Homo sapiens: one gene and its partners. The protein of the gene in region 1 purifies or fractionates together with the protein of each later gene. This does not show direct contact. Each region holds a gene or a part of one and is shown on either strand. Other genes may lie near its edges.

What was found.
Region 2: the proteins of CSF1R (region 1) and POLDIP3 purify together in Homo sapiens (affinity purification with mass spectrometry; one large-scale study listed by BioGRID and IntAct). This does not show direct contact.
Region 3: the proteins of CSF1R (region 1) and SOS1 purify together in Homo sapiens (affinity purification with western blotting; one study listed by BioGRID). This does not show direct contact.
Region 4: the proteins of CSF1R (region 1) and YTHDF3 purify together in Homo sapiens (affinity purification with mass spectrometry; one large-scale study listed by BioGRID and IntAct). This does not show direct contact.

What each region holds. Positions count from the first base shown.
Region 1 is NC_000005.10:150,076,555-150,080,054, forward strand, and holds part of CSF1R (macrophage colony-stimulating factor 1 receptor isoform a precursor), read right to left. Parts: coding exon 3,498-3,500; intron 1,695-3,497; coding exon 1,558-1,694; intron 882-1,557; coding exon 722-881; intron 1-721. UniProt on the Homo sapiens protein: Tyrosine-protein kinase that acts as a cell-surface receptor for CSF1 and IL34 and plays an essential role in the regulation of survival, proliferation and differentiation of hematopoietic precursor cells, especially mononuclear phagocytes, such as macrophages and monocytes.
Region 2 is NC_000022.11:42,594,377-42,597,883, forward strand, and holds part of POLDIP3 (polymerase delta-interacting protein 3), read right to left. Parts: intron 1,990-3,507; coding exon 1,810-1,989; intron 1,239-1,809; coding exon 1,161-1,238; intron 1-1,160. UniProt on the Homo sapiens protein: Is involved in regulation of translation. Is preferentially associated with CBC-bound spliced mRNA-protein complexes during the pioneer round of mRNA translation. Contributes to enhanced translational efficiency of spliced over nonspliced mRNAs.
Region 3 is NC_000002.12:39,020,045-39,023,551, forward strand, and holds part of SOS1 (son of sevenless homolog 1), read right to left. Parts: intron 3,182-3,507; coding exon 2,526-3,181; intron 1-2,525.
Region 4 is NC_000008.11:63,175,121-63,178,627, reverse strand, and holds part of YTHDF3 (YTH domain-containing family protein 3), read right to left. Parts: intron 3,298-3,507; coding exon 3,212-3,297; intron 1-3,211. UniProt on the Homo sapiens protein: Specifically recognizes and binds N6-methyladenosine (m6A)-containing RNAs, and regulates their stability. M6A is a modification present at internal sites of mRNAs and some non-coding RNAs and plays a role in mRNA stability and processing.

The DNA of each region.
Region 1 (3,500 bases):
CCATCACTCTCCTCTTTACAATGACCTCCCAATAGGTTAAGATGCAGTTATTCTTTCTCACTTTAAGACACCTTTACCTCCGGCTTCTGCCACCTCCTCTGCTCCCCTGTGGCCACTCCTCACACCACTCCACATCCCAGCTGTTGTCAAGTTCTTTCAGTGTTCCAAATGATCTATGTTCTCTTTGCCTTTGAGCCTTGCATATGTTCCTCCCTCTGCCAGAAGCGCTGTTCCCCTTCCTTTCCCACCCTTCTGCCCGGCCAACTCACCTTCATTCTTCCCATCCCAGTTTAGAGGCCACCTTCTCGAAGCCTGGGTTGGGGGGACTCTTCAGTGTTCCCAGGACACCTTGTGCTTCCCCCATAATCACTGGGTGATCATTGTCTTTTCATGTTTCCATAAAGGAATGCATGAAAGAATGAACAAATGAAGTCCAGTAGGGAGCTACTGGACCCCAATCCCCAAATAAACAAAAAATGGCACTAAGGTGCACCCAATGCAGCCATGCACTGTAAGAGCTCCAAGATGGGAGAGAGATCCCAGGAGAGGGTAAGGGAAAGCTCCTGGAGAGTGGCTCCTTAGCCAGGCCTTGGATAAACAAACTCCAGCAGAGATATCCTCAGCAGGTCTCCTTCCCTGACATCAGCTTCCTCCTCAAAACCCTTCTGCTCACACTCCTGCAGGATCCCTACCGACTGTCCACCACCACCCTGATGCTTACCTACCACCCGGAAGAACATGGAGGTGGAGTGCTTGCCCTGCACGTTGCTGGCCACGCAGGAGTAGTTGCCGGCATGTTGGAAATCTACTTGATCGAGGTTGAGGGTCAGGACTTTTTGGTAACGGTTATTATGAAAGTCAGATTGTTGAGGGATTGCGAGCTGCAGCCAGAAGGAATGGAGATGTTATACCAAGGTAGTTTAGGGATTAGAAAGATCTGGGTTCCAATCCTCAGCCTTTAAGGATTACTATCTGCCTTTCCTCTGAGCCTGTTGCTTCACTTGTAAAATGGGGCTAATACTGGCTCCCTGCCCCAAGACTGTAGTGAGGAGTAAATGAGATATGCATGCAAGTGGCTTAGGGCTGTGTCTGGAACACGGCAGGTGCAGTGGGAAGGGAGGGGGCTCTTAGAGGCAGCCCAACGTGAGTCCCTCCTGGAATCCTCCCTCCTCCTCCCTCTCTCCCAATGTCTTTCTGAAATAGCTGTTATATTCCTGGGCTTCAATGGTGGCCTAGGAAACCCTTGCTAAATCAGAAGTGAGCTCACCTCTGGCTTTTGTCTAAAGGCTGGGGCAAAGGCCATGTGTCAAGGTGACAGAGAACCACCTCCCCCCACCCACCCCCACAAAGTTCAGCGGCACAAGCATGAGTCCTGATTCTGTGTCAGCTACTGACTGGGAGTGAGATCTCGGGTGAGTCTGCACCCCTCTCTGGAGTCTGAGCTGTGCCTTCAGCTAAGACAGCCAGTTTGGAGTTGGGGGCCCAGGACTCCACCATGGGAAACCTGGTGTGCTGGGAGGATGGCCAGACTTCACCTTGTGATCTGCAGGGACTGACCTTGGTGTTGTTGTGTTGGAGGAAGACATCAAAGTTAACATCAACGCTGCTGGCTGAGCACACGATCTGGGCAGCCTCCCCTCGAATCCGCACCAGCTCTGCAGGCACCAGTGTCAAGGCTGGGGGCCCTGGGATGACTGAGACCGGGGGAGAGACCCCTGAACACCCAGGCTCCCTGAACATGATAGAGATATTGCTCTCCTCCCTGCCATGGGCCAGGACACACAGGCCAGGGTCCCCATCACTGCCCCATCCCAAATCCTGGGAGGCAGCCTTGATGCTCCCAGTCCCCCCACTGCAAGGCCTGTCCTAAAGAGACCTTGGAAAGTCTACTTTCTCCATCACCTCTACCCCTCCCCAGTCCCGTCACCATTCTCCACTCTGGACTTCTGCACCAGCCTCCTCAGAGACCTCCCTGCCTCCCTCCAAGCCCCCCACACCTAGATTCTTCACTAAAGTGACCTCTTACAAATATAAATGGGACCATGCCTCTCTCCTCTGTAAACATTTGGGGCTTCCCATTACTCTCAGAAAAGAAGTCAAAGTCCTTCCACAGCCCAACCTGTTTCTGACCGCCCTGATAACCCCACCCCTTGTTCACTGCACTGCAGCCCGCTGGACCTCTTTCCTACCACAGGGCCTTTGCACCCACCTTTCCCTCCTGGAATGCCTTTCCTCCCACACTTCAAATGGGAGGCTGTTCTCATCCTTCAGATCTTTAGCTCAAAAATTCCTCAGCAAGGCTTCTGTGACCAGCTGATATGAATTAGCCTCCCCAGCACCTCCATGCCCGCCACTCCCCAGCTTGGTTTCTTGCTCATCACATTTGTATTTACTTTCTATTTAATAGTTAGACTCTAGTCGAATGTCAAATCCGTGACAGGAATATTCCAGCAGCCAGCAAGATGCCTGATGCACAGTAGGCCTTGAATTCATATTTATGCCCATTGCTGCTGTTGAAAGATAATCTAATCCAGATTCCTAAGGCCCAGGGACATGAAAGGACTCACCCAAGGTCCCTGAGGGGGTGTCAAGGCAGAACTAGGGCCCAGGACCTTTGGCTCTTGGCCAGCCCAGGGCTCTGCAGGATGAAATGCCAGGAAAGAGCCCTAATGGCCTCCTCTGCCCACACAGCTGGGGTCCTTTGACCCCCTGGGCAGGTTTAGTGGCTTCAGATCCCAGTGGCATTGGGCTAGCTGCTTCACTCTGACCCTGGCCCTTGTTACAGGGACTGATTGCTGTCTCAAGCCCAGGTCCTCAGGCTGGGGTCCTGCTTGCTCTCACCAGTCCTCCCAGAAACCAGAATCCTGCCTGCCATCCCAGCAGGGTGAGACTCCACCTCCACTGTTACCTGGCCACCGCGAGAGCCATCACACGCACCCACCATCTCCTCCCTGCCTCTTGGCTCAGCATCCCTCCTACACATGCCCAGCACTTGGCCTTAGGCAGGCCCCCAGTGGGAAATCCATGTCTGAGGCTGAGCTTCCGTCCTCTTTCCATACCTAGAACATTCAGAGCCTGTCCCCACCTCACCACTTGGTACTCACTGTCCCCCTGCTGAAGCAGATCTTTGCACAGCCACCTTCTTCATGTCATTCAGATTTCCGCTCTAATAAAGTGTTTCCTTCTCAGTGAGGCTCCCCGCCCTACACACTCCTTATTCAGCTACCATGTTGAATGTTTATTTTTGTAGCATGTCCAATGACTTGAGATGACCTTGCCCACTGAGTTATTTGCTCACATGTGGTTTGTCTCCCTGCCCCGACACCTTGTCAGTCCTGCCCCATAGATGATCGTGGAACCATTGAGGGGAAGAAGTGAAAGAAAGAGGACATCCCACTGCCCCCCATCACACCCAGTCCCCAGTCACCACCCATGTGGCCGCCGGCTCTCTGTCCCCACTCTTCAGGCCTGGCTGCCGGTCCCCATGCCCCACGCACCTT
Region 2 (3,507 bases), on another chromosome or scaffold:
GGCAGGCGCCTCTAATCCCAGCTACTCGGGAGGCTGAGGCAGGAGAATTGCTAGAGCCTGGGAGGCAGAGGTTGCAGTGAACCGAGATCACACCATTACACTCTAGCTTGGGTGACAGAGTGAGACTCCATCTCAAAAACAAAACAAAACAAAACAAAAAGATTTAACAAATGTAGTGACCAGTGCAGTCTGTTAGTCTGGGACTTAACTGCAGGGAGAGGCTGGATTCTCCAAACGTATTCATTTTGTGATCTGACAGTTCAAAGGATGCCTGGATTTCTAAACTAATGGCTCTTTTGGGTGCCTGAATGAAAATGATGTTGAAAAGAAGTCCTAGCTGCATCCAGAACCCCGCTCACAGACATTTGACAGGTTTTGCCCATGACTGCCATGGGTGGGACGGGATGGACCAGGAAGGTGGATACCACCAATCCATCTCACTTCTTTCACTTTGGAATCATCTTGTAATACCTCCAAAGGACACAGGAAAACACAACTATTGGATACTGCCCAGTGGGACTAAAGGATCCCATTTAGGACCCATTATAGCATAGATATCCCCTGACTCTGAGATTCAGGCCAGGCACCTGGCCTTGGCTAGAAGCTGTGCAGAAGAGTGAAGCAGCTGGGCTGACTGCTATTGTTTGAAAGGTCCGATTCCAGGGGTGGCCCTTGGCTGGCATCTGAGAACTCGGATCTCAGGAGGGCTCCTGCCACCCCACAGTTCACTGTGCCTGGACTGTGCAAACAACATGGTTTCTGCTCAACAGCTGCTTTCCCTCTGGGAGTCTGGAATTTTAGTACATGCTACACAGAGAATGCCGAAGTGACCAGCCCCCAGTAAAACCTTTGGGTACTGAGTCTTTAATGAGCTTCCCTGGTGTCACATGTATTGTCACAACTTGCTGCGAGTTGCACCCAGCATCCTGTGCGACTCTGCTGGGAGGGGCCTCTGGAGGCTTGTGCCTCGTTTCCCCCCGACTTCACCCCATGAGCCATTTGCTCTGCATCCTTTTGCTGTCATTAGTCTCAGCCCTGAGCGTGACTATATGCTGAGTCTGGTGAGTCCTAGCAGTCATCAAACCTGAGGGTGGGTCTTAAGAGACCTTTGCCACAGAGGCAGTTTGAGATTTAAATGTTTGGTAGGTCACAGTACTTACAACAATGTCCTCCTCAGTGACTCGAGGGTGCAGATTATTCACAGTCATCTTGGTGCCTTCCAATGGGCTGAGAACAGGCTGCCACACAGACAAGAGCATTACCAGAAGCCAGATGGCTGATAAGCATTCCCACAACAGAAATTCCTCCAGGCACGTGACTAGGAAGGCCCAGAGGAAAGCTCCATGGAGAGTTACCACAAATGGGCCCCCTGAACTTCAGTGTCCACTACACCCCCCATCACTCTATGCTAAAAGCATGGACCCTCTCCCATCTCCCAAATACGCAAGCCTCTCAGGCCCTGAGCCTCTACCTGGAAGGCTACTCATGCTTCCAGACCCACTCAGCTAAAAGAGCCCTTTTTCCCAGACTTCCCAACTGGAATGAGATAATCTGTCCTCAGCCCTCCTAATAGCTTTCTTCTGAGAGAGTCTAACATATCACCAGATACCGCAATCTCTCAGCAGGTCTGCCGTCCCCACTAGCCTGCAAGGTCTTTGAGGGTAAGAGTCCCTAGGTCTTGGTTTGCTCATCTGTAGAATGGGGGTGGCAATGCCCACCTCACAAAGGCGTTGTGGGGAACACAATGAGGTACATATAAGCATACAGCCCTCCTGACCCCAACTGCTGCAGTCACCACCATCACCTCACCTCAGCAGCTGGCAGCTCTTTGGGGGGTTCTTCCTTGTTCACCAGTGTCCGGGACATGTTGGTCAAGGCTTTTGTTCGAATAGAGGAAGGGAGAGCAGGAGCTGTGTATGCATCATTCTGAACCACTTTGGTGAGAGGGAGGGCCTTGGACATGGAAAGCTTGGAACTGCTTAGCCCAGCCTAAACGAAGAGACAGAAAAGAATCTGAGAAGCCAGACCTGCAATGTTCTGAAGAAGCCCCAAGAGGTTGACAACTTGCTGAGAGCATGAACCCTCGATGCCTCCCAGCTCTCTAATTCTATTAGAGGTCTGGAGCCAAAAAGGCTGCCGGCTGCCAGTGACATCCCATAGGGAAGGGGCAGGGGGAGAGAAAAACACACAGCCTGAACGCGCACTCACAGAAGCCACTCCCCACAGTGCTAGAAGCTCTTGGCAGGAAGCTTCCATACAGCCCTGACCTGGAAAATTACCCAGGAGCCACAGGCTCACCCACACCACTTAGACTTTCTAAAAATTCTACAATATGAGGCTGGTCAGAAGGCCAAAAGCTTGGCCAGGCATAGTGGATCACATCTGCCATCCCAGCACTTTGGGAGGCTGAGGTGAGAGGACTGCTTGAGGCCAGGAGTTCAAGACCAACCTGGGCAACACAGTGAGACCTCATCTCTATAAAAAATGTAAAAGAGCTGCTCTGCCTGTGGAGTAGCCATTCTTTTATTCCTTTGTTTTCTTAATAAAGCTGCTTTTGCTTACAAAAAAAAAAATTAAAAGGCCAAAAGCTTGAGGCCAAGTTCATTCCCAGATATGCTTCTATCACAATGTGCTGATCACCACTCTTAAGAAGGCCCAGAATTCAGTGTTTTGGTTCCTCTTCTGGCCATCCAGAGGAACCACACACAGCCTTGGCCTCATCAGCTCCGACTGTCAGGGACACTCGGGCATTTGGCAGTGCAGATCACCAAAAACAGCCCCTCCATCTGGATGTGGTCCCTTGGAAACAAAACTCCCCTGTATTAATGTGTCTGAGGAAAAAGGTGCATAAAGCAGAAGTGACGGGGGCCCTGCTGATTTAGGGCAGTGTTTACAGGCACTGACCCAGGGCAGGGAGAAAGGAGGAACGCAGCGGCCAGAGAGGCACATCAGAGCATGGGCACGGGCAATTCACCACGCTCCTCCAAGTCTGGGTGAAGCAGCGTCATCCCCATGCTGAATTCCACATTCCTCATGTGGAATTCTGCGTCTCCAGAGCTGGGACAGCACAGTGACTCCACACAGGGCCCTGAGAGCGAGACTGCTCGGGCTCCATTCCTAGATCCACTGCTTCTCATCAGCTGGGTGATGTTGAACAGGCTTATTTCACCTCTCCATGCCTGTCCCTCATCCATCAACGAGGGTAATCAACAGTACCCATCTCACAGGGTACAAGACGCATGAGTATAAATATGGCATTTATTCAATTAGGGTATCAAATAGGGATAGAGACTCACTGAGCAAGCTGATAGTTCCCTTGATAGCAGACTTGAGCAGTCTAATTACTGGAAAGGCCTGGTCCCTTTGTAAAGAAACAAACTGGCATCATTCAGCTTCACGACCTCTTTTTTTTTTTTTTTTTTGAGACGGAGTCTCGCCCTGTCACCCAGGCTGGAGTGCAGTGGCGCAATCTTGGCTCACTGCAACCTCCACCTCGGGGTTCAAACA
Region 3 (3,507 bases), on another chromosome or scaffold:
TGAGTCAATGTAACATGGTAGAAAATATACTCTATTTAGAGTCAAGAAACCTAATTCTTGACTTGTTCTGGAATTAACTCGTAATAGAACTTCTGGGAAATCATATAATCTTCAGGGGCCTTGGGATTTGTCTACAAAGTGAAGGCTTGGGCATCTCTTCTAGCATTAGAGATCTATAGCTCCATTTTGTACATTACTGTTAAAATATTTGAGGGATAAAGTTGGCTGACACCACAGTGAAGTCTGAATAAAGTAAGGTTAAACCAGTTTCTCTTCTGTTTTTATGACAATGTCTAACCAAACTATAATAATCTAAAAGATGTCTGTAAGTCGTGTCTTATAGTATTCATTAAATTTTCTCATGTATTATATCCAATGTCTTTTATTACAATTCTATATAATAAAATAAAAATGTGTAAGTTAAATGTTAGCTTTGTTTCAGTGTAAGCCACAACCTGTACTGCATGTTCTCCAATAAACATACCTACTAACCAAATCACAAATCCCTTTTCTCTTTGGGGAGGCTGAAGAAAGATGAGAGGAGAAGAGCAGACCAGTAGTTCTTAAAAACAAATGGTAACTTGATCTGTTACCATTGTAGTGAGGCCTTAAAAGTCCATTTCAGTTTTACAAGTTCACAGATGGTCTATTAAAAACCATTCTATGTTGCCAGTAATAACTTCAGTAACAGACCTTACAGAATAGCCCAAATAAGCTAACAGTTAACACTAATGTGTGTGTACTGTAAACCACAACTCACGAAAGCTGCTTGTAGACTCCAGTTTCACCAGTAATATATTTATGACATAAATTAAAATATTCAGTTAAGCTTCAAAAGAAGACAGAAAAGAAAAATATCAAAAAACTTAGCCACAACACTGGCCTTTTATTTCTCAAAAAATTATTGGAAGGAATTTTTTAAAAACATTTTTTTTAAGTAAAATAATCTCATCAACTTAAATTTTCAATACACTTAACTTTGGCAAAGTTCTATAAATCTTGAAATTTAAGTGTTTTATATTCATTATAAGTAAAAGCACTCAAAATATTACTCTATACCAAAGCTAAAAATTGATATAGAAAAGAAGTATCAGACAGAAATAACTAATAAAACATCATTACAAAAGTACCATGTCCACGGACTTTACCTAACATTGTACACATTAAGGAAAGAAGACTTTCAGGACTACAAAACAAGTATCAGCTTGTTCCAGTTAATTTTGCTTTAAAGTGTCCTCATTTAAAAAAATAAATAAAAGGGACAGTTCCCCAGACAATAGTTGTAACCATTCTTCAGCTGCTTATTAATAATCATAAATTAACTTTGTGAAATATAGCAATTTAGAGAAAACTTCTATCACTCAATCAAGTCTTACAGAAACAATTAAAAATTTTGTAATTTGAAAATGTTTTCCTGCCCAAGTATCACTGACTTGTGACAGTAAACACTAGTAGTAAGTCTTCTTACAATGCTCTACAGGAAAAAAAAAAAAAAAAAAAAAATTAAAACTTCTTTCTTACAAACACAGAGAAAAATCTAAAGATTAATTTTACTCCAAATGAGTCTAGGAACCCCAAACAAAAGTACTTAGGATGAAATGATAAAGTTTAGAATGCTCATGTTATAAAAATTCTATGAGTCCTCTAAGGGGACTTAAAAACCAGGAAAATGTGGCAAGAAGGGCAATTTGAACTTTTATAGCCTTAAAAATCTCTTAAGCAGAAAAGAAGTATTTTGCAATCACAAATTTTGGGTAACTGAATAAAAAACATTTTTATAGTTGTAGTCTAGATCATAAAGAACATAGAAAAGGTTGGTGAAGCACAACTAAATCGGCAGGTCATACTACCGAAAAATTGTACCTCTCAAAAAACAGCTTTATATGGAAAAAAATGACAATAACCTATTTGTTTTTCATGTAAAATCTAGGCAGCCTATTTACATTTCCTATGATTTTTTAAATTTTTGGGTCAGTAAAATAAATACACTGACTATAGACATTTCTAGGTGAAAAATTATAATAAAACTGGAATCCTTGGCTTCCAGGATTGCAACATTTATTATTAAATAATCAGGTTTAGGAGTGGAAACTGAGAGAAAGCAATGCCGTGTATATTTGTACTACCAGCACAATTTTGTTATATTAAAATTTTTATTTATAATCTCAGAAATGGAAAAAGAAGAAAGAAAAAAAAGATAAAGGAGTAAAAAACTTTTTAGATCCCAATAATGATGATTTACTACTAACTTTAGTCTTGTTTCTGTCACTTTCTAACTGGATAAATTTAGCCAAGTGACCTCATTTTCTCATCTATAACTGATGGTAAGGTTAAAAAAAAGTATTTAAGTGTAGTAGAAAAAGTAAAACATTCCAAAGAAATATAAAGTGGGGTATTTTTAGTCAAAGAAAAGAGGTCTTTGGTTGTTAGTTTCTTTTCTATTTTAGGCACAATAAACCCATGCAGGAAAGAAAATCAGTTTGAAGCAGGAAAACAAAAGTGACAGGCAACTGCATAATTCTTACCTGCGTACATATGGTACGTAAGCCTCTCTATAAGTTTAATAACAGTTCCTGCTTTGATAATTGGAATTCCAGCCTTGGGCTGCATGTTCTCTTCAAATATAATATTCTCTTCAGAGTCAGGCTCTGCAAATCTATAAACATCAGCACTAGGCAGCCTCATCTGCTCCTCTTTCTCTTCCTGTAGCATTGTTACATCAAGCATCCTTTCCAGTGTACTCCGGTACTGTAAAGATATCAATGCTGCCATCCAATTGTTTTTCTCTTCAGCTGACTTGGCAGAAAATATAACACTATTTTCATCTTTTAAAATTATTTCAAAAGCATGCTTGTATTCATTGGTGTCATCTTTATCATTAATTTGTACCTTTCGCATAAAAAACTTTTCTTTAAGACGATATTCTGCATTGCTAGCACCAGGAAGTCTTGGCTGCCCATGATTTGATTTACAGCAAATCATTAAGCCATCAAAGAGAAATATGTGTCTCTCATGTTTGGCTCCTACACGTGTAAGAGTTCCTTCCATTATAAATTCATTACAACACTGTCCAATGTCTTTTCCCTCCCAACCATCAATATTCTTCTGAATCTCGTTCATCTTCTTGATTGCTAGTTGTTTCCCCTTCATTTGCTGACTATAAAACCGACATGCAGATTCACTGGAATAAAGAAAAAGACATTATTAGTACATAGATGACAGAAAACCTAGAGCTCATGTAAGTAAGGGAAAGTGTAAAAGTAGATTTTTACAAGTCTCACTGAGAAGGTATTCACTAATTCCCCAAATAGATTAGAATTACAAAATTACACAATTTTGAAAATTAAAGCAACCTAGAAATTTTTTTCAGTGTTCTAAAAAGCACAATGATTGCTGACAAAATTCTCCTTAAATGTAACTACAAAATGATTATTTCTATCTTGGCTACTAAATATTTAGAATGACAACTAATAAAAAGTAGCCCAATACAGTAAAAAAAAGTAATCT
Region 4 (3,507 bases), on another chromosome or scaffold:
TTAGTACCACAAAGGAGAGGTAGAACAGGCCTTACTGGAATCAAACTTTACAACTTCTCTTCAAACAGGATACAAATATGTTGATTCCAAATATCATGAGTTAAAACAAATCTATTTTACAAATGTTTTGCTCCAACATAACCTGCAATGATGCAGCTGAAAAAATTCATTTGGGTTCACTAAGGTAAATGCCTTTACATCTTTTAAAAAGTAATGGTTTCCCAAACACTTTTTAAAACTATTTTTTTTTTTACAAGTAAAGTCTTATGCACAATTCCAATATATAGAACAGATAAAACGCAAACCACAGTGCTAGTTGCTACACTGGTGGGATTCAGGCACCCTCCGCTGGTTTTCCCTAGGAAGACACTAAGGTGCCTCTATGGAATACCAGAAATCCTCCTGACAAAAATTTTTCCTCCAGTAGAAACCCTTCTATGTCCTTGTGACAAATAATAAAGAATTGTAAAATATCTGTTATCAAGCAAAACATGCAAGAAGATTACTCAGGTAGCAATTCCAAAACTGTCTTTTACAGTCCACTAAAATTCCTTAAAAAAGAGTTTGAATGGCTGAGTGCGGTGTTCCATGCCTGTAATCCCAGCACTTTGGGAGGCCGAGGCAGGTGGATCACTTGACGTCAGGAGTTCAAGACCAGCCTTGCCAATATGGTGAAACCTCACCTCTCCTAAAAATATAAAAATTAGCCAGGCGTGGTAGCATGTGTCTGTAATCCCAGCTACTTGGGAGGCTGAGGCAGGAAAATTTCTTGAACCTGGGCGACAGAGGTTGCAGTGAGCCAAGATTATGCCACTGCACTCCAGCCTAGGCAACAGAGCGAGACTCCGTTTCAAAAAAAAAAAAAAAATAAGAGTTTGAACAAGTCAGGATTTTTTATACTATATCTTCATCTTAAGAACTTCATTTTCAATTATAATTTATAAACTATGAAATCAAGTAGCAAAAAAAACAGTTCAACTGTTTAGCCTCCAAAATTTCTCAAATCTATCTAAACATGGACATCTTTTTGAAGGAATATTTATTACACCTCCTAATATTAAGATTTCTCAGCAAAGTTGGAAAATACTGCCATACTGCCATAAGCGTTAACTGAGATTACTATGTGAGCCAGAATATAGTAAAATCACGCTTATTTTAAAACTTGCACTACATTTCACAACAAATGATCTACTTTCATAATCTTTACGTGGAAAAGTAATTTTGCTGAGATCGTAAAGTTTTTTTCTTTCCCATTTATTTCTTCTCCTCCCATGTATGCTAGGAATGTTGCTCAGTAGATAGGAAGGGGTGGTTAAGGGGAAGTAACCAAGAGGTAGATGAGGTTGAACACAACCACCACTCTCCATAATCCTAAAAATAATCCTGCATCCCACAAATTGGGAACTACTTTTTGTTCAAATTTTCCCTATAACTCTACTGTACAAACTGTTCAGTTCTGTAGTAAGATTTGGTTCCTTGTTCTTTCAGAGTTTCAAAAATCTAGGTTAAAATTTTAGAGTACGTTTTTCATTTTCTCCATATATGCAAGCAGACAAGTCAAACTTCATTCAGTTTTCCAATTTACTCTTCAAATTTACACACACAAACTAACTGGCATCTTTAACGTGCCAATTAAAATCTGAATTTTAGGCTGGGCACGGTGGCTCATGCTTGTAATCCCAGCACTTTGGGAGGCTGAGGCAGGCAGATTACTTGAGGTCAGGAGTTCAAGACCAGCCTGGCCAACATGGTGAAACTCTACCTCTACTAAAAAATACAAAAAGTAGCCAGGCGTGGTGGCATGTGCCTGTAATCCCAGCTATTCAGGAGGTTGAGGCAGAAGAATCACTTGAGCCTGGGAGGCAGAGGTTGGAGTGAGCCAAGATTGCGCCACTGCACTCCAGCCTGGGCAACAAAACAAGACTGTCTCAAAAATTAAAGAAAAAAAAAAAACTGAGTTTCTAATCAAATTAATCATAAAATTATTCCAAAGAACTGAGTTTCTAATCAAATTAATCATAAAATTATTCCAAAGAACTACAGAGGTGGGCTGGGCCCAGTGGCTCACACCTGTAATCCCAGCACTTTGGGAGGCCGAGGCGGGCGGATCATGAGGTCAGGAGATCGAGACCATCCTGGCTAACATGGTGAAACCCTGTCTCTACTAAAAATACAAAAAAATTACCCGGGCATGGTGGCGGGCGCCTGTAGTCCCAGCTACTCCGGGCTGAGGCAGGAGAATGGCGTGAACCCGGGAGGCAGAGCTTGCAGTGAGCTGAGATCGCACCACTGCACTCCAGCCTGGGCGACAGAGCGAGACTCCGTCTCAAAAATAAATAAATAAATAAGAACTACAGAACTAATTTTAAGACCCAAAGTTCTTGAGCATTTTTTGCTTTTTTAAAGCAAAACAAACAGTTTCATTCCACAATGTTCTCTCTAAAAAAACTGGTGAATACTGAAAATGTATTTTTTCATTTATTTCTATCAGTGGCTTATTTTTAGTAACAGACAGAAATGGATGCAGAAATGGCATACAGATACCTAATAGCATTGTTCTTCAATGTTTAAATTGGAATTACGCTTGTACACAAATACTCAAAGCCACCAGTTACCAATTACTTGATTTGATAAAACTGTCCATGTCTACAATACAGAAGTAACTGTGTTTATAAAGCAAGTATGTTTATAAACTCCTTAATTCTATCACCGACATTACCAAGGTATGTTAAAATTTTCAATAGTTATCAATGAATTCAATCTGCAATGTCTTAAAAAAAGAAAACACTACATTTGACCCAAAATTGCAGGCAATTTCAGGTAACTAATCCCTCCTCCAAATACCCAAATTTCTAGCTAATTAAGCCTTTTATAATTAGCTTAAGCTATGAAGATATAGCAGTGACATTAAAAGATTAAGTTCCTTCAATACACACACACAAAAAACCTAACCATAATATATACAAATAATGGTCACCTTCAAATCTTTATTCTATATTTCATAACCTAGTTTCTGGTGCCTATACTTTCTGAAGAAGAACTCTCCTGTGCCATAAATCTGCAACTGCTACTCACTACTCACTTACTATATAGGTACACTAGATGAATGAATCCATGTTATGGTTAATCTCATTAAATAATCTATTTGAAAAATCAACTAATACTAATAAAAGGTTAATTTCCTAAAATCTGAAACTGTCAGAAGACTTACCTGATTTGTCTGGCTACTTAAGTATGGCTCAAAATCATCATCATTTACAGCATCTTTTTGATGAATCGAACCGTTTTGTACTGAAACTAAAAAAATGTTTGTATTAGAAGTGTTGTAGTTATCTTTATGAAACTCGCAGCACAACCTAATGTTTTTAATATTTTTCAAGCCAAAAAAAGTAATCAGAAAAAATAATACTGAGTTATTTTTAAGAACCCTCTTAAGGATAAACTATTTTAGATACAAATATTCATGTGCCACAAAAACTTAAAAGTCTTTTGATACATAAGCCCAAG